Homo sapiens: one gene and its partners. The protein of the gene in region 1 interacts with the protein of each later gene in a pairwise test. Each region holds a gene or a part of one and is shown in the gene's direction. Other genes may lie near its edges.

What was found.
Region 2: the proteins of FLCN (region 1) and ALDOB interact in a two-hybrid assay, tested with the Homo sapiens proteins (one large-scale study listed by BioGRID and IntAct).
Region 3: the proteins of FLCN (region 1) and CCDC180 interact in a two-hybrid assay, tested with the Homo sapiens proteins (one large-scale study listed by BioGRID and IntAct).
Region 4: the proteins of FLCN (region 1) and FBP1 interact in a two-hybrid assay, tested with the Homo sapiens proteins (one large-scale study listed by BioGRID and IntAct).
Region 5: the proteins of FLCN (region 1) and HEMGN interact in a two-hybrid assay, tested with the Homo sapiens proteins (one large-scale study listed by BioGRID and IntAct).
Region 6: the proteins of FLCN (region 1) and TMEFF1 interact in a two-hybrid assay, tested with the Homo sapiens proteins (one large-scale study listed by BioGRID).

Annotation. Positions count from the first base shown.
Region 1 is NC_000017.11:17,223,669-17,227,168, reverse strand, and holds part of FLCN (folliculin), read left to right. Parts: intron 1-846; coding exon 847-993; intron 994-2,657; coding exon of another isoform or gene 2,658-2,711; intron 2,712-3,025; coding exon 3,026-3,247; intron 3,248-3,500. UniProt on the Homo sapiens protein: Multi-functional protein, involved in both the cellular response to amino acid availability and in the regulation of glycolysis.
Region 2 is NC_000009.12:101,422,918-101,425,774, reverse strand, and holds part of ALDOB (fructose-bisphosphate aldolase B), read left to right. Parts: intron 1-147; coding exon 148-322; intron 323-732; coding exon 733-932; intron 933-2,857. UniProt on the Homo sapiens protein: Catalyzes the aldol cleavage of fructose 1,6-biphosphate to form two triosephosphates dihydroxyacetone phosphate and D-glyceraldehyde 3-phosphate in glycolysis as well as the reverse stereospecific aldol addition reaction in gluconeogenesis.
Region 3 is NC_000009.12:97,376,455-97,379,251, forward strand, and holds the end of CCDC180 (coiled-coil domain-containing protein 180), read left to right. Parts: intron 1-308; coding exon 309-440; 3' UTR 441-2,297; downstream 2,298-2,797.
Region 4 is NC_000009.12:94,605,576-94,608,518, reverse strand, and holds part of FBP1 (fructose-1,6-bisphosphatase 1), read left to right. Parts: intron 1-1,566; coding exon 1,567-1,704; intron 1,705-2,942; coding exon 2,943-2,943. UniProt on the Homo sapiens protein: Catalyzes the hydrolysis of fructose 1,6-bisphosphate to fructose 6-phosphate in the presence of divalent cations, acting as a rate-limiting enzyme in gluconeogenesis. Plays a role in regulating glucose sensing and insulin secretion of pancreatic beta-cells.
Region 5 is NC_000009.12:97,928,173-97,931,672, reverse strand, and holds part of HEMGN (hemogen), read left to right. Parts: intron 1-451; coding exon 452-1,638; intron 1,639-3,500. UniProt on the Homo sapiens protein: Regulates the proliferation and differentiation of hematopoietic cells. Overexpression block the TPA-induced megakaryocytic differentiation in the K562 cell model. May also prevent cell apoptosis through the activation of the nuclear factor-kappa B (NF-kB).
Region 6 is NC_000009.12:100,546,149-100,549,648, forward strand, and holds part of TMEFF1 (tomoregulin-1 precursor), read left to right. Parts: intron 1-1,595; coding exon 1,596-1,744; intron 1,745-3,500. Other genes in the region: MSANTD3-TMEFF1 fusion protein, read left to right, coding at 1,596-1,744.

The DNA of each region.
Region 1 (3,500 bases):
GCCACTGCAGTGCAAACGGGAACCCAAGCTTGTTCTTTTGGTTCTGCTGCAGAAGCAGAGGACGTGTAAGAGCTGCATCCATTGCTGGAATTGCCTGTAAGGAATGGGGGATGGGGAGCACCTCAGACCTGGGAAGGAGGGCACCGCCAGGCTGCTGGGGCATCCTTGAGCTGGTTTTGGGGTTGCCCATGGAGGAATCCTGCGACACTGTGGGGAGAGTCTTGCTGACGCACTGCCGCACAGTCCTGGGGTAGGAGCAGCTCCAGGGCGCACAGCCTCAGCATCGGAGTGGCTGTGGCTGCAGCGGGGCAGCGGGGCAGCAGTGGTGAGCTGCCACACCAACATCCTGGAGCTTGGTGCTCGCCCTATTTATTGGGCCTCTCGCCTGTGGCTGAAGCCCCTTCCAGGTGTTAGTTCAGAACCAATGATGGAGGCTGGGGGCAGTGGGTAGTGTTACCACCACAGAGCCCCTCACCCTCGGGCCAGCTACTTCTCACTTCAGCCTCAGTTTTGTCTTCTGTAGAATGGGGCTTCTCACTGACATTATCTCAGAGGGTGGCACTTGGGATTGAATGAGATGGAGCATGCAGGGCCCTTTTCATGTTACCTACTTCGTAAGTGCTCAGCAAATACCTGTTAGGAACAACCTCTGGCAATCTCTGCGATCTCTGTGTTCTGTTTTCCTCTTTAGGAAACATTTAAATCTTCAGATAAGTATAAATCTGGAAGCCAATTATTTTTTTACAAAAATAGCTTGAGTTTTCCGAGCTCAGATTTGCATAAACCTAAGAGAGTTTGTCGCCCTGCTTCCCAACTAACAGATTTACTTTTCCTTTTCATGGACAGGGCTGCCGGTCACTTGCTGCAGGGCACCCGGGATATATCAGCCATGATAAAGAGACCTCCATTAAATACGTCAGCCACCAGCACCCCAGCCACCCCCAGCTCTTCAGCATTGTCCGCCAGGCCTGTGTCCGGAGCCTGAGCTGTGAGGTGAGCCTTGTGGCCACAGAGCCTGTCTCTGTGGGAGCCCACATGCTCCCAGGTGCTCTGGGTGGGCTCGGAGCCAGCATTGCACAGGGAGGCAGGCACTGGTCCTCTCTCAGGGCGGACCCGCAGATCAGCACAGCACAGGGTACAGGACGCCTCCCTTGTCCAGAATTGCGGGAGGAGTCATGTTGGACTTGCTGAGCATTTTCTGATTGAGTGCTAGCTTTTGCACTTTAAGCACCGAACTTTTATTATTTGTCCTTTCTTTATTATTATTGTTTTCTTTTTTCCTTCTTTTGTGTCAGGGTCTCGCTCTGTCGTCCAGACTGGAGTGCAGTGGTGCCGTCATGGTTCACTGCAACCTCAAACTCCTGGGCTCAAGCGATCCTCCCGCCTTAGCCTCCCAGGTGGCTGGGACCACTGGTGTGTGCCACCATGCTCAACTGGGGTTTGTTTTTTGTTGTTGTTAAGACAGAGTCTCACTCGGTTGCCCAGGCTGGAGTGCAGTGGTGCAATCTCGGCTTACTGCAACCTCCACCCTGGGTTTAAGTGATTCTTCTGTCTCAGCTATCCTGAGTAGCTGGGACAACAGGCGTGTGCCACCATGCCCGGCTAATTTTTTGTATTTTTAGTAGAGAAGAGATTTCACCATGTTGGCCGAGCTGGTCTTGAACTCCTGACCTTGTGATTTGCCCGCCTCGGCCTCCCGAAGTGCTGGGATTACAGGTGGGAGCCACTGTGCCCCACCTTTTTAAAATTTTTTTGTAGAGATGAGGTCTCAGTATGTTGCCCAGGTTGGTCTCGAACTCAAGCAATCCTCTGGCTCATCCTCCCAAAGCACTAGGATTACAGGTGTGAGCCGCCATGCCCAGCCATGTGTGTCTATTCTTGATGGATGTATTCCTAAGATAGGAAGCATTTCTAGGTTAGGTGGTTCATTGCATCAACATCACCTTTTTTTATTATCTCAGTCCTCATTCCAAGTCTCAGTGATGATCCCGTGCTGCTCTCAGCCTGCTGAGGTGTGGATGATTTCTTCCTAAACTACGTCGCTGCTGCTGTTGCTCTTGACTCTGAGCTCAGGTCTTTGTTACAAAGAATTCGTCGTTCAGTTACTAAACTTCCTTGTCATTGGTGTCCACCCAGTTCGACACACCAAGCTCCCTTACTGTTCTCATTCAGTGTGGCTGTGTGCCTGCCCTCAACTGTCCTCTCCTTTTAATTTCCTACCGCTGGTCTGCTAGCAGGCAGCTCGGCATGTCTGTTAGAATTGTGTGTTAAGGAAGAGTAAGTATGTAATGAGGAGGGACTGAAATCCTCTTATAAGAATAAAGTACGTGGGGCTGGGCATGGTGGCCCACTCCTGTAATCCCAGCCCTTTGGGAGGCCAAGGCCGGCAGATCACCTGAGGTCAGGAGTTCGAGACCAGCCTGGCCAACATGGTGAAACCCCCTCTCTAAAAAAAATACAAAAAAATTAGCCAGGCGTGGTGGCACACTCTTACAATCCCAGCTACTCAGGAGGCTGAGGCAGGAGAATTGCTTGAACCCAGGAGACGGAGGTTGCAGTGGGCCAGGATCACACCACTGCATTCCAGCCTGGGTGACAAGAGCGAGACTCCATCTCAAATAAAGAAAGAAAGAAAGAATAAAATGTGCGGATTTCAGTGCAGGGAGAGTGCAGTGGCTGCTCTGACCTGCTGGTTCTTCTGCATGCTCCAGGTGAGTAAGCTGGTACATTTGAGTCTGGGAGAGGTGTGACATATGCATGGGAGTTATTTATGGCTCAAGGTGGAAGAAAAGCAATAAGCCTTGTTACCGGCCCTTGCAGTCCACAATGACAAGTGTTGTTGGAAGCTTGATCACAGGAGCAGAAGAGTACAGTCTTCGGCTCTCATGGCCCCCACTGTGCCACTCTCCCCGTTATTAACGCTGGCTGATTTGTGCCAGCTGACTCTGAAAAGTCTGAAGAAGAGGCTTTGATTTGGTGTCACTAAGCGAGGAAAGGGCTGTCTGAGTCGCCGGTGTCCCTCCAGGTCTGCCCTGGCCGTGAAGGCCCCATCTTCTTCGGAGATGAGCAGCACGGCTTTGTGTTCAGCCACACCTTCTTCATCAAGGACAGCCTGGCCAGGGGCTTCCAGCGCTGGTACAGCATCATCACCATCATGATGGACCGGATCTACCTCATCAACTCCTGGCCCTTCCTGCTGGGGAAGGTCCGGGGAATCATCGATGAGCTCCAGGGCAAGGCGCTCAAGGTGAATTCAGAGATGAGGTGCCGGGGCGGCAGGGGGCCCTGCACTGCATGAGCCGCTCTGTGCTGAGGTTGAGGCCTGGAGACCGCGTGGCGTCTTCCCCTCTGCTTACAGCCAGTGCACTGTGTGAATTGTAGTCTCTTGGCTTCAGAGCTGGAGGTCGTGAGGAGCCTCCCAGGCCATCCCGCCTGCTTTGCTGGTCTCTCTTGTGCCCGTTGTCCTGGTTCTCGCTCAGCTCTGGTTTCTTTGCTGCAGT
Region 2 (2,857 bases), on another chromosome or scaffold:
ATGAGGCCTGGAGATTGGTTCAGAAGCTTTTGCCAAGCAACAAATAAGAATTCCTTCATCCTGCCTCCCTGCAGTGTAAATGTGCCAAGGTCAAGTGGCTCTATGACTAGCTTTGAGTTTCACCTGGTGGGACCTCTTGTCCTTCAGGTCCTGGCTGCTGTCTACAAGGCCCTGAATGACCATCATGTTTACCTGGAGGGCACCCTGCTAAAGCCCAACATGGTGACTGCTGGACATGCCTGCACCAAGAAGTATACTCCAGAACAAGTAGCTATGGCCACCGTAACAGCTCTCCACCGTACTGTTCCTGCAGCTGTTCCTGGTAAGGCCTTCTTTCTTCTCTAACTCAAGGTCTTAGCCCTCATTCTTTGGAGAGCCACAAGCTTTCTGTTTGTCCAGAAATCTGCTTCTATTCATGAAACAAACCTCTGTTATCTCACAGGCAGCCAGCACTTCTTCTCCCACTTCAGAATACCAAGCATCCCAAGTCTGCCCAAATGCCCACAATCCATGTATTTCTTCAACATTTCACTGCCTTCCTTACGTATTTAAAGCACTTATCTCTAGCCCAACTAGCTTCAGCAAAAGCAAACTGATTTCTCAGTTTGCTTTAAGGCAAATTAAGCAGAGAAAAGACTGAGACATTACTTTTCTGGTAGGTTCATTGCTTGCTTTCTCAAGCAGGGTATATAAGGTGGGACTAATAGAGTGAAATGGCTTCTCTCCTACCAGGCATCTGCTTTTTGTCTGGTGGCATGAGTGAAGAGGATGCCACTCTCAACCTCAATGCTATCAACCTTTGCCCTCTACCAAAGCCCTGGAAACTAAGTTTCTCTTATGGACGGGCCCTGCAGGCCAGTGCACTGGCTGCCTGGGGTGGCAAGGCTGCAAACAAGGAGGCAACCCAGGAGGCTTTTATGAAGCGGGCCATGGTAAGATGCTGCCACCTCTTATCTACTTGATGATGTTCACATTTGGGGCTTGACTTTCCAACACGGAGAAGCATTGTTTTCTTTGGGCCAAGAAGGTATCTACCGATAGTGTCTATTAGGCATTTGAAAATGTGGCAGTAGAGGTCAGTATGAGGATTGAGGCTAGAGAGAATTTTGAATTATCCACACTAGAGTATAGTTGATGACAGGAGACTGAAGGACAATTTCAACAGAAACACTTCAGAGGGAAGGAGATAAGAGGACCAAGAACTGAACCTAGGATACTTTTTATTTTGGGAAGATGAAGAAGAGAAGCAACCAAGAAAAGCAGCGATTATATTGTAGGGTGAACCAAGCATTCTGGGAATAAAGACAGAAGAATTTCTTTCTTTCATGTTTATTTGTTTGTTTGTTTGTTTGTTTTGAGATGGAGTGTTACTCTGTCACCCAGGCTGGAGTACAGTGGCACAATCTCGGCTCACTGCAACCTCCACCTCCTGGATTCAAGCAATTCTTCTGCCTCAGCCTCCCAAGTAGCTGGGACTAGAGGCATGCGCCACCATACCTGGCTAATTTCTGTATATTTTAGTAAAGATGGGGTTTCACCATGTTGGCCAGGCTAGTCTCAAACTCCTGACCTCAGGTGATCTGCCCACCTCAACCTCCCAAAGTGCTGAGATTACAGACATGAGCCACCACACCCAGCCGGGTAAACAATTTCAAAGGGCCAATAATAACATGCTATAGAGAGATTCAAAAGAAAGGCCAAGAAAAGACCCTGAGATTGGCATTTAGGAGCATACCAGTGACCCTCACTGAAACAGTTTCAATAAAGAGGAAAGGAAAGGTGCCCACTCAAGAAGTTTTTCAGAAAAAGACCCAGAAAGGTTGCCAGGAGAAATGAGGACCAACAAAGTTTTTATTCAAATAATAACCAAAATTTTTAAAATACGCTTTATGAGCCAAGAACTGGGGTGAACAAATGAGACATAGCCATGTCCTCCAGGAAGCTTGGAGTTTAGCCAAATAGGAGAGAGCTTGGCATGTTTAAATGTAAAGAAAGAGGAGCCAGAGGAGACAGTAAAGATGAGGAGAGTGGGGATAATTGAGTGGAGAAGAACTTAGAGGAGCAGGACTGCATGAGACTCAATATTAAGCATAGGTGGCACAGCTGGTGTAAGACAAAAAGGAGGGAAGAGGCAGAAAAGAGAATACAGTTGGAATCAGCTCTATATAAGTCAAGAGATGTAGCAGTTGATGACTGATTACAGTTGAGGGTATCTGCTGAGAATGATGAAGAAATGGAAATTTCAATACTGACAGTCGGAAAGCGTAGAAAAGCAGTTAAAGGAACTTGCTAGGAAATTGATCGGACGTTATGGCCAGACATAGCCAAGCATCAGGTAATGTGCAGCTGAAATAAGAGTGAGTGTGTGGTAGCTTCATTCCTGAGTTTTCCTAACAGCAGTCTAAAGCATGCAGGAAGATTCAGAACGCAAAATAGCGGGGTAGAAGAGTGAAAGTTTAATAGGAAGGTAGAAGAGTGACAAATTTTACCGATAGCCTCTGTTAGCTTGCTGACCATAGAGGAAGCTAGGCAAGGAATCAAGAGTAGTCAGAAGTGTGGTGATGAGGCCCTAAAGGGAAGGAAGGCCCCAGGGAAGCTAAATCATCATCTCACAGGCATAAGAGAGGTATCAGATTTTCAAAGTAGTGCTTTACCTTGACTGTGGAAAGCAGGGTGCAGCAGTGCTGCTGTGTGGCTGATGGACTGAGGAGACCTAGCTTACATGATGGAGGGATTGTGAAAGCGCAGGTCATCAGGGACATCCACACAGAAGAAGGGAAGCTGAGTTTATCATCAAGGATGGTGCTTCCCAAGCTCCAGTGTGGATCTGAATCACCTGAAGGTGATTTTGGTTTTG
Region 3 (2,797 bases), on another chromosome or scaffold:
ACAGTGTGGGACAGAGCTCAGGAAGGAGTGCTGAGCCTAGAGTCAGATAGACACAGGTCCTAGTCCCTGCTCAGCCTCCTTCTAGCTGGGTGACCCCAGGCCAGGCTCTGAGCCTCAGTTTTCCTGTCTTGTAAAATGGGGAAAACAACTAGGACTACCTGGTTTCTACCTGAGAAGTGACTTGGAGAACTCTTGCCAGTGCCTGGAATGGGTTAAAAACCACCTGCCAGCAAGTTACAGCATTGCCCTAGGGGAGAGGGTCCAGATGTCTCTCCTCATGTGGACCCCTCCTGCTACCTTCCTTCTAGAAATATTTAGCATCATTTGAGGAGGAGCTAAAGAGGATCCAGGATGACTGTACATCTCAGATAAAGGAGGCTCAGCGCTGGAAGGACAGCTGGAAGCAGTCCCTGCACACTATCCAAGGCCTGTATGTGTGACCCTCCGCCCCACCATGAATAAACACTTTCTTATACAGACTCCTTCCCTGTCCATCTACCTGCCTACCTACTTTCCGTCCATCCCTCCCTCCCTTCATCCCTCCACCCCTGCTCTGTGCCGGGCACTGTAGCTTTACCAGCGAACAGGACACAGCATGGTCCCTGCCCACGTGGAGCCCTCTTCCCATGAGGAAGGCAAGCATGAAAGGGGAATTCCACGTGGTTAGCAGGGAGGGTGAGTACCAGGAATCAGTCACTTCAAATAGGCACCAGAGCTTCAAAGGACATCACCTCCAAACAGCATGCTGGGCAGGGCACGTCATCTTGAAAAATGAAATAAAGGTCATGGGAAAATGATATTTTAATTTAACAGAATAAACAAGTATGGGTTATAATTGCAACTCTGCACTGGTTCCTAGACCCAACAAATAACTAATCCAATGTTGATTGGTATTTGTGCCACAATTTGTCTGAGCAAATTGCAATATTTTGGAAAAAAAAAAATCTTCCAGGCTCCTTTAGTCCTGTGTTGCCCAGATCATTCTCTTGGAGTCCTCCAGCCTGCCAGTCTCTTGTTCGTCAACTCTCTTCTTCAATTACATGGCGTGAGCGTACAGCCTTCATTTGTCGGTAGCTGTGTGTGTCATCTGGACAGGTTTCCTCAGCCATAGACCTAGGAGGCCCCAGCTCCCAAATTTCCAGCCCCTGAAAGCTGTGTGACCCTCCAAGTGCAGTTCCCTCACCTGGGGACACTCACTCTGCTCTCCTGGTTTGCTCCACCCAGTGAGGCCCTGCTTGGTTAGCTTGGTTAGCTTGGTGGCCTTTGTGCACTGAAGCCAGGAGAGTGAGGAGTCCCCTTCCATCAAGGCAAAAGCAATCTCCTGTTCTTTTCTGTGCTCCCCCCACCCCCACCCCAATGTGCTACCTTTCATTGCTTATTATTCCGAAAGGAATATATGCGCATTGTAGAAAAAAGAATTTATGAAACCAGCAAAAGGATAACTTTAAAATCCTGAGCCGGGCGCGGTGGCTCACGCCTGTAATCCTAGCACTTTGGGAGGCCAAGGCGAGCAGATCATCTGAGCTCAGGAGTTCGGGGCCAGCTGAGGCAACATGACGAAACCCCATATCTACTAAAAATACAAAAAGTTAGCCAGGCATGGTGGCACACACCTGTAATCCCAGCTACTGGGGAGGCTGAGGCATGAGAATCGCTTTAACCTGGGAGGTGGAGGTTGCAGTGAGCCAAGATCATGCCACTTCACTCTGGCCTGAGCAACAGAATGAGACTCTGTCTCAAATAAACGAATAAATAAATAATAAAATCCTGGAATCTAGAGACAGTCACTGTCCATAGCATCTTTCCATGTATGTGAGTTATTTTTATAAAATGGAATCATAACATGCATTAGGTTCCATAAACTGCTTGGTAAATGTTAACTGGATAAACCCTATGCCATATCCTTCAGTATTCATTTACATCATTGGTTTTCATACTTTTCTGACTCTGACCCACTGTATAAACATGTTCTAAACACACGGTCCTTGCACACATACACAACTTGAGACCAACAGGTCACAGGACAGCACTTAACCTTACTAGAAAGGCTGCTTTCTAATATTTTCTCCCTGCTTTTTAAATCCTAGCCCAGTCCACTAACTCAGTTCATGGCCCACAAAGGGGCTTTGATTGCAGTGTGGGACACTGTCATTTAAACAGCTGCAGAGTGTTCCCACTGCCTGGGGAACCAGATCGCCTCTGTCGGACAAGGGCGAGGATGTCCCATGCAGGGCTCCTAGAAAGAAGGCAGAGATGACATCCTCCCACATTAGCTCTTTGTACACATCTGTAATCATTCCTTAATCAGAGGGTGGCAGCTGTGGACATGGTGCCAAGTCACCCTCCAGGGAAACAGGCCACCCCCTCCCACCATTAAGCAGTGCCCATTGCCCATTGCCCATTGCCCATTTTTCTCGTCCACACCAAGGGTTCTAGTTTCAGGATTTGGGGGAAATTTTTTGCTGGTTTGGTTGGTGAGAAATCATATCTAAATCACTTTTCTAATAGTGAGTGAGACTGGACTCTCATCACCCCTATACCTGTACCCCAGGGACCCCCTTAGGCTCAAGAGGCCCAGCTTGACAAGCACTGAAGGAACCCAATGCCACTTTGTCTACCTTTTGGCTACTGTAGATCCACACAAAAACTTGTTCATGACTGCCCGTAGCAGCACTAAAAAATAGTGCTGTTATATCTAAGACTCCATTGCCTAAAAGATAGTGCTGCTATGAGCAGTCATGAACAAGTTTTTGTGTGGATGCATATTTTCATTTCTCTTGGGTATATACCAATTACT
Region 4 (2,943 bases), on another chromosome or scaffold:
CGGGCCCTGACTGCTTCCCATTCTTCTGGTGCCTTCTCTTGTTACCTTTGAGTTGGTGGAAGCAGAGAAAACATTCAATCCCTTCTTGTTTCCAGATTGCAGGGGAGCATCCCTGTAGGGAAGCTTCTGTGTGTTTGATAGTCTTTTGCCCTCCTCAGTCCTGAATGTTTGGAAGCGCAATGCAGGGCTGCTGGGATTTGATTCCAGCCCTTCTGTCTGCGGTGCCTGACGGGGCTGAGCCTCCCGCCAGGGAGGTGCTAAGTGCTTCCTCTTTGTTTGCGCTTGCTGCAAAGCCAGGCTGACGGTTTCTGCTGAAAACACTGCTACAGCTGTACTCGGGTTTCCAGCGGCTTCAACTTTCTGGGAGCTTTTATGTTTTGTCTCTGTACACAGACTTTCCTCCTTTGCACCATGGACAGTCTGGCTGGGCCCTGCGCTCTGCACCCAGCAACTGTTGTGAGATGGCTTTCTTTTCTATATAGTTTTTTGAAAGACATTTATTTATTTATTTTTCTACCAACGATAAAAGAATATTCCGGTATACTTGTGGTCAAAAATTTTGAAAATATTAAAAAAGGCATAAAAGTAAGAAAGAAGAATCACTTCCAGTGACACCTTTCAATGGCCACTGTGAATTCTCCCCTCCCTTTCTCCCTGTCTGTCTGGTTTCAACGTATTCCATATGGGTAGGAACCAATTTCTGCTGTGGAATAAATGGCTAGGTAGAGAGGTGTCGGTGGGCCTTTTTTCTTTTCAACTCTTGTGTCAACGTCAAGCCCCTCCTAAATGGGCAGAGCCTCGATCACCCTCTTGCCAAAAACACACAGGAACCCATAACAATCCTCAATCCGGAGCAATAGGACTTCTGCAACACTTTTCCCCCAAATTCAAATCTCCTTTGAAGAGCCTAAAGCTTAAAGGCATAAGCTTAACCCTGGGCTATGTGGGAAGAGGCAGTCTGAGAAAAACTTCACACGCCAGCGAGCAAAGGCCATCGGAAGTTACGTACGCCAGACTCAAAACTCAGGGTTCTACTTTGTTCTATAAGAACGCCCAGAAAGGAGAACTCCCATCAAGGTAGAAATGTAAAGCCGAGAACAGCGCTGAGCACTTGGGTGTAACTCAGGGACTGATCCTGCGGTGGCCCGTCTCTCCTGAGAGCCCACCTCCCGCCTGAACCAACCCTTTTTTCTGTTTGGTAAAGGCATACACATCTTATATTGCTTTGGACACACGGTTCTTACTCTCTTGCAGGCTTAGCAGTTGTTTCACAAGTCTGCTCTCCCTATTTTTGTGTGGTTTCTTTCTTGTTTGACTGAAATCATATGCAAACAAAGTCGAAAGTGTCTGTTATCACCCTGATGGCTTCTGCAGCATTGTCTTGCTTCCCCTCACCCCATTCACAGTTCCCAGAGAGCCTGGCAGGTGTCTCGGGGCCCCAAGATGAGTGGTGCCCGTGCGCCGCGACCCCAGCCCAGCGTAGCCCAGCCCATCGCTCGCCTCATCCAGGCCTGGGGGACCCAGTGCGCTCGTCATCTCTCCACCTTTCCTTCCTTGTCTAAAAAGGCCATCGGGGAGTTCATTTTGGTGGACAAGGATGTGAAGATAAAAAAGAAAGGTAAAATCTACAGCCTTAACGAGGGCTACGCCAGGGACTTTGACCCTGCCGTCACTGAGTACATCCAGAGGAAGAAGTTCCCCCCAGTAAGTGAGGGCCCGGGGAGGGTGGTGCAGGTTCTGGGCATCTGGCACCAGAGGCCGTTCTGGAGGCAGGGGCATCCCCCGGAGATGAAAGGGATCCTTGGGATCGAGGGCCTTGGGCCTCATGTGGGGCTCCTGAGCAGTGTGGAAATCTATTGGTTGATGACTTACCCTAAAGGTGAAAGGAAGCAGGGATGGAGTGGATTGGGCTTCCGTCTACACTGAGCCCACGATGAAGTTCTCACCTCAGTACTGGAGACTGGAATTCTCACCCTGAGACATCAAAAATCAGTCTCCATGTCAGCCTTTGCTACTTTCTCTTGGCAGAAGAAAATTAGGATAATAAAGTTAAACAAATGAATGAATTCATGGCAGTAAAACATCTTCCCTTCTGGGGTCCATGGTCCCAGATGGGATGAAATGTGGTTCCCCCACTCAAATGCCCGTCAAGTGGTGTCTGCCCCTTGCTAGGCCTGCCTGAGGTGCATCTATCAGTTATCTCGAGACCGAGAGTGCCCATCGTGACATCTCCCTAAAGAGGTTACAAGCTAGTGAATATGAAGAGAAGAAATGGCTGTGTGGAGCTTGCTCTATATGGAATATCTGATTTTGTCCTTTCTTTGTTTAAAAGCCATCGATGGCTGCTGTTTGCTAGAGATGAAGCTCAAATGTTTGCAGGACGTTCAAGGAGGCCTCAGATCTGCCCCAGGCTTTCTCTCCAGCTTACTCATCTCTCCTTTCACCTTATCCTGGATTCCCCTCCTGCCCCCAAGCTCCGCACACGCACACCCGAGTCCCACAGGCTCCTCCTCCAGGACCATATCCCTCTCCACATTGCTAAGCAGACACTTGTGCAGTTTCCTCTCCTGTAAATTACACACTGCCTCCCACCCCTGCCCGGTTCCTTAGCTTGGTAACAAACTTTCTCAGCCTTTAAGGTGTTACTAAATGGTACAGTTTCTGTAATGCCTGCCTCAGCCCCATAACCAGAATCAACCATACCCTCGTTGGGGCTTCTGTGGGCAATCTGACCTATTGTGAGATGATGAGAGGCTGTCTCCATTTTTCCATTTTCTATTTATTGGGAACAGGATTCTCATCACATTTTTTAGCACAGCCCCAAATACATACCTTGTAGGTGCTCGGTGAATGGATGTGGAATCAAAGAAACTTAGGAGACACCAAGAAAACTCTCTTTCTTATTTTCTGCAATCCTAATTCTTGCTGGTCTTAACTTGCAGG
Region 5 (3,500 bases), on another chromosome or scaffold:
TGCCAGGTCTAGAAACTCGATTTGTATGAGTTTACTCAGGGGTAGGGAAGTAACACACAAAGACTAAATGCAAAGAGACTAGTGTATAAACCAGAATGCCACTCTATTAATTTGTAATGAGAATTATTTATTTTCCATAACAAAACTTTAAGAATATGCTATAACACACGCACGCACGCATACGCGCATGCACTACCCTCACCAAGAAGGCTCCTGGTAAGCATGGTATCAATGCCACGAAGTCCTGGAGAAACATTCCCTCTCCTAAGAATTGAGAACATCTAGAGCTGCTCCTTCATTTTACAAACAAGGAGATTGAGGCCCAGAGAGATTAAGTGACTAGTTCATGATACTTGTGCAATGAGGCAGTGGGGGACCTGGCACTGTTATTACAAGCATTTATTTGAATTCTGTAGTACCACTGCTGACACTAATTCTGTTCTTTCTGCAGAGAACAGAAAAAACGCAAGCAGCAGAGAACAGGAAAAGGAAATCGAAGAGGCAGAAAGAGACAACAAAACACAGAATTGAAGGTGGAGCCTCAGCCACAGATAGAAAAGGAAATAGTGGAGAAAGCACTGGCACCTATAGAGAAAAAAACTGAGCCACCTGGGAGCATAACCAAAGTATTTCCTTCAGTAGCCTCCCCGCAAAAAGTTGTGCCTGAGGAACACTTTTCTGAAATATGTCAAGAAAGTAACATATATCAGGAGAATTTTTCTGAGTACCAAGAAATAGCAGTACAAAACCATTCTTCTGAAACATGCCAACATGTGTCTGAACCTGAAGACCTCTCTCCTAAAATGTACCAAGAAATATCTGTACTTCAAGACAATTCTTCCAAAATATGCCAAGACATGAAGGAACCTGAAGACAACTCTCCTAACACATGCCAAGTAATATCTGTAATTCAAGACCATCCTTTCAAAATGTACCAAGATATGGCTAAACGAGAAGATCTGGCTCCTAAAATGTGCCAAGAAGCTGCTGTACCCAAAATCCTTCCTTGTCCAACATCTGAAGACACAGCTGATCTGGCAGGATGCTCTCTTCAAGCATATCCAAAACCAGATGTGCCTAAAGGCTATATTCTTGACACAGACCAAAATCCAGCAGAACCAGAGGAATACAATGAAACAGATCAAGGAATAGCTGAGACAGAAGGCCTTTTTCCTAAAATACAAGAAATAGCTGAGCCTAAAGACCTTTCTACAAAAACACACCAAGAATCAGCTGAACCTAAATACCTTCCTCATAAAACATGTAACGAAATTATTGTGCCTAAAGCCCCCTCTCATAAAACAATCCAAGAAACACCTCATTCTGAAGACTATTCAATTGAAATAAACCAAGAAACTCCTGGGTCTGAAAAATATTCACCTGAAACGTATCAAGAAATACCTGGGCTTGAAGAATATTCACCTGAAATATACCAAGAAACATCCCAGCTTGAAGAATATTCACCTGAAATATACCAAGAAACACCGGGGCCTGAAGACCTCTCTACTGAGACATATAAAAATAAGGATGTGCCTAAAGAATGCTTTCCAGAACCACACCAAGAAACAGGTGGGCCCCAAGGCCAGGATCCTAAAGCACACCAGGAAGATGCTAAAGATGCTTATACTTTTCCTCAAGGTAAGGGCTGTTTATAGCACCAAGGTAGGTACATCTCCCCCAGAGTAGTGATTTACAACTTTCTCTGACAATCCTGGGTATTCCCTGTTATTTCAATGGATACTGTGAATTTCATTGACTAGTTTTAAGTGAACAATATTTTCATGCAACCAACGTCTGTCTTGGCATATTTCAAAGAGTTAAAAAAATTGAAAATGCAAGCATGTACATTAAGTACTTATTCATACTATCCATCCATTATGAGATGCTATAGTCAGTGAAATGAACCCAATATAGGATGAATTATTGCAAAATATTTTTAAAAATTAAGTCTACATTAACAAGAAAGCTTGATGAATGAAGTTTTTCTAGGAAATTTAATTTGCCTGATAAATGGAAAGCAGGTAAATTCATAGTACGAAGTACTGAGGGAGATAAAAGCTGTAAAATATAATCCTGTTACTAGGGAATTCATTCTTGTAGGATTTATCAGGTTTACCAAAAACCCTTTCTATTTCAAGATTTGTTCCTGAAAAACTTTTTCCTAAGTATAGGAATTTGAAAATAATGCAACCTTTCTTTAATTTCACTTGCCTCAGAGACATAACTGAGAACTTCAGCTCTCTTTGTACAATACTGTAGACAGTATAAGAAATGGACTGAGTCTATCAGACCATAGTTATCCCCAGGAAACTGATTTCTAAAGAAATCCCTTTAGTAGTTTACTTGCTCTTTATCCTAAAAGATGAGTGCAACAAAAACATGGTGCTAGTTGGTTTCCAAGTAATACCAGTTTTGAAGAACTACTTTAAAGAAATACATTGCAGCAAAAGCAGGCATGTGAAGCAGTACGTGCACTGACAGGAGTACCCTGCTGGAGAAGCAGCTCTAACCAACACAGCGTCCTGATTCCTAACTGCTTCATTCTAAACCCAGCAAGGTCGATATGGTCAATTAATTAACGCTTATTTTATTTTTGGCTTTGTTTGACCAAATAAATGGGAATATCTATTTTTCCTGATTATAAAAGTAGTAAGTGTTCATTATAATAAAGCAATATGTAAGTGAATATCAAGTAAAGTAAAAGTCCCCTATAATACCATCTTCTATCTTCAGTTCCCAATGTTAAGGTTGTTTTGTTTCAACAAATGAGACAGTACCCATCCTATCCTGTAACTTGTTTTTGTTTTCATTTACAATATGTATTGCAGCCATCTTTATGATGTCTTTTGTAACAACTGCATAGTACTGTGCTATATGTATATTCAACCAGTCTCTATAAGGATGAACACTTAGGTTACTGCCAAGTTTTACTATTACAACAATGTTCAATGAACATCATTGGGAATAACATTTATTTAGTTAACATTTATCTGGTACTTTTCTATGTGCCAGACACCATATTAAATATTTTATGTGGTTTATTTTATTCAATGTTAAAAGCTCTACTGGATAAATAATACTCCCATTCTAAATATAAGGAAATGGAGGCACTGGAGGCTGAAGTTTGTCTGATTATTTCCTTTGAATCAACCCCTAGAAATCAAATTGTTGGGCCAAACGGTACCCAAATTTAAAGTTTGAATATACAGTCAGTCAGACTAGCCTCCAGAAATGTGGTAGCAATTCACACGAGACAGGTGCCTTTTCCCCACACCCTTGTCAGCACTGTACATTATGACATTTTAAAAATCCTTGTCTGTCTGCTAGGTTAAAAAATACACTTGATCGGCCGGGCGCGGTGGCTCACGCCTGTAATCCCAGCACGTTGGGAGGCCGAGGTGGGCGGATCACGAGGTCAGGAGATCGAGACCATTCTGGCTAACACGATGAAACCCCGTCTCTACTAAAATTACAAAAAATTAGCCGGGCGCGGTGGCGGG
Region 6 (3,500 bases), on another chromosome or scaffold:
TATTGTATTAATCTGTTTTCACACTGCTGATAAAGATATACCCGAGACTGGGCAAAAGAAAGAGGTTTAACTGGACTCACAGTTCCCCAGACCCACGTGGCTGGGGAGGCCTCACAATCATGGTGGAAGGCAAGGAGGAGCAAGTCACATCTTACGTGGATGGCAGCAGGCAAAAAGAGTGCTTGTGCAGAGAAACTCCCATTTTAAAAACCATCAGATCTCATGACACTCATTCACTATCATGAGAGCAGCACAGGAAAGACCTTCCCCCATAATTCAATCCCCCCCCCACCAGGTTCCTCCCACAACACACGGGAATTGTGGGAGTTACTATTCAAGATGAGATTTGGGTAAGGACACAGCCAAACCACATCAGGCCTGCAAAGCCAAAAAATTGGTAATTGAATTTACCCAGTTTGGCAAATGCCTTCAAAGTGAAAATCAGCTTTAGAGAGCTCAATTGACCTTTCTCTGTGCCTGTGTACTTATAACTTCTGTCCTAAATATTCCTGACTTTCTTACCAACTTGTGAATGTATTTAAGAGAATGTTTTAAAATGTTTGTCCAGTGTTTTTTGTTGTTTTTATCAGGAAGGTTAGTAAAGGTTCCTAGTCCTCTGTGTTGCTATAAACAGGAGAGTCTCTGTATTTTTATTTTTGTTTCTCTATTCCTAACTAGATTTTACTATTCTTGAGGGGAGTAATCTTGCTTTGGACTTCTTTTGCCTTCTCTGTAGTACAACACTCAGTGTTCAGTGGATACTCAGTTACACAGATAGACATGTAGCTAGAAAACACTTTTGAGGGTTTCCATTTTACATATTTCATGTCTATTATATTTTTTAACCTTCCCAGTTATTTGGCAAGGTAGGTTATTTATTTATTTAAGACAGGGTCTCACTCTGTCCCCCAGGCTGGAGTACAGTGGTGCAATTATGGCTCACTGCGGCCTCAACCTCCTGGGCTTAAGTGATCCTCCTGCCTCAGCCTTCCAAGTAGTGGAGACCACAGGTACACACCACTGTGCCTGGCTAAGTTTTTTATTTTTTGTAGAGATGGGGTCTTGCTTTGTTTCCTAGGCTGGTCTCAAACTCCTGGGCTCAAGTGATTCTCCTACCTTGGCCTCCCGAAGTGTTGGGATTACAGTCATGAGCCATCATGCCTGGCCATTATTATTACCTCCATTTTACTGATCAGTAAACTAAGACTTAGAGGAAGAATTTGGATACAAATCTGGTAATAACTAGGGGTAGAATTTAGATTTGTGACTATTGACTCATAATTCTGTGTCCTTTACAATGTGCCATTTTGCTATTTAATTAATGTCATTGATATTTGACATCTCCTGATTACTTTATCTAGATATGAAAATTCCAGAGAAACCACTGGATTCATAATATCTTGATGAAATTATCTCTAAATCCTCACCTAAAATTTTTTTAGGTATTTACTTTGCTTAAGCTTTCATCAGTGACTTAAAACAATATATTGACTTCTGTTACAGAAAGCAGAAGAAAGAATTGGTCTTTTTTGCTGTTGCAGCATTGTGAAATATTTTTGTTGTAAAATATAGGTAATTTTTGTCTTTTCCAACAGGTGTGTATGTAATATAGATTGCAGTGGATACAGTTTTAATCCTGTGTGTGCTTCTGATGGGAGTTCCTATAACAATCCCTGTTTTGTTCGAGAAGCATCTTGTATAAAGCAAGAACAAATTGATATAAGGCATCTTGGTCATTGCACAGGTAAAATCCATTTTATTTATTCAGAGACCCATCTTTATTATTGTATAAATGTAATCTTATTTGTACATTTGGTAGTGTTTCAAATTTGTAAAATGAGAAATCCTCGAAGCTTTATTTTTTTATTACTTTATATTTCAGATTTTTTATTACTAATTTAGTTTTTTTTCATTATTTTCATCTTCTCAAGACATAAACCATGCTTCTTGGTTTTTTATTTAGTTAGTTCTTGGTTGCTAGCTGATCCTAACATGGAATTATAATTATTATTTATAGTTCTAATATCATCTCAAATTTGGAATGATTATAGCTATTTAAGAGTTAGATAACTTATTTTAATTTCAGTAAAACTATGTTATTGCCATATATTTGTTAAACCTCTTTTTATAGAGCATAATAGTTTACTTTGTTTTTCCATTATCTGTATCATTTTCCCTGTACATATTATGTATGATACAGATTTTGGTGTGAAGTTAGAGAATGTAAGGAAAAATTATTGCCTTTAGCTTAAAATTCTTTTCACCCTTCTTGCTTTTTGTTATAGCTTAGAAACCATGATACCATATAAGAAAGAGTTTTTGTTTTCCACCCCTACTAGAAATATTCAGTCTCTAAAGCCAGAGTTCCCAATTTTCTTTCCCCAGTAATATTCAGATGAGTTGGGAAGATGGATTATTTCCTCAGTCACATATGTGGACCAGGCACACTCTCATGGACTAGGATTGTATATCTTTCTTGCTTACTGGTTCCCTTCTTCCTCCCTTTTTAGACTTATTAAAGGGATATTATGTTTTTATCTGAGCTAAAGGGAAAAGGTTGTAAGCCAAAATTTGGTACATTATATTGGTAACAAATTATTTGTGACACACTACACAATTGATTGCAGTACCTCTGGTCTAAACTACCAAAGAATACCCAGGAAGCTCATCAGACAATTTTTAGGTAGGAGTTGAGTGTGGGCATGATAGAGGACACCATTTACTGACAGGGACCCCTTCTGGGTAGATGTCCCACTTAGCCTTGATCTTGAAGAAGTATGGTCCCCCCACCCCAGTGGGGTGGCATTTAGAGCTTGAGTGGGAAGACTAGCTTAGAGAAGGACTATGTTCTCTGAGGAAAAGATGCATATTTGAATGATACTCTACTCTTTGGAATTTCAAGTTCAGAGCACCTGGTCAGTGTATTAGTTCATCCTCACGTTGCTAGAAAGAATTACCTGAGACTGGGTAATTTATAAAGAAAAGAGGTATAATTGGCTTACAGTTCCACAGGCTATACAGGAAGCATGGCTGAGGGCCTCAGGAAACACAATCATGGTAGATGGCAAAGAGGAAGCAGGCACATCTTACATGGCCGGAAAAGGAGGAAGAGAGAACAAAGGGAGGTGTCATGCACTTTTGTAAACAACTAGGTCTTGTGAGAACTCACTCACTATTATGAGAACAGCGAGAGGGAAATCTGCCCCCCATGATCCAGTCACCTTCCACAAGGCCCCTTTTCCAACGTTGGGGATTACAATTAGACACGGCATTTGGGCAGGGACACAGAACCAAACCATATCAGTCAAGTTTGAGAGTTTAATTGAAATGCATCCTTTAGAGTGATTGGGCCTTAAGTTTTGTCTTAGTCCCCTCTGTAATTTTTCATTCACAAACCTAACTATGTCTTTCGTTTGCCTCCTCCACTAGTACTGGGAAGCTTGTGCTTCTAAACACGTGGTTATGGCTCATTTATAGTCTTCCCAGTCCAGGTGCAGTTC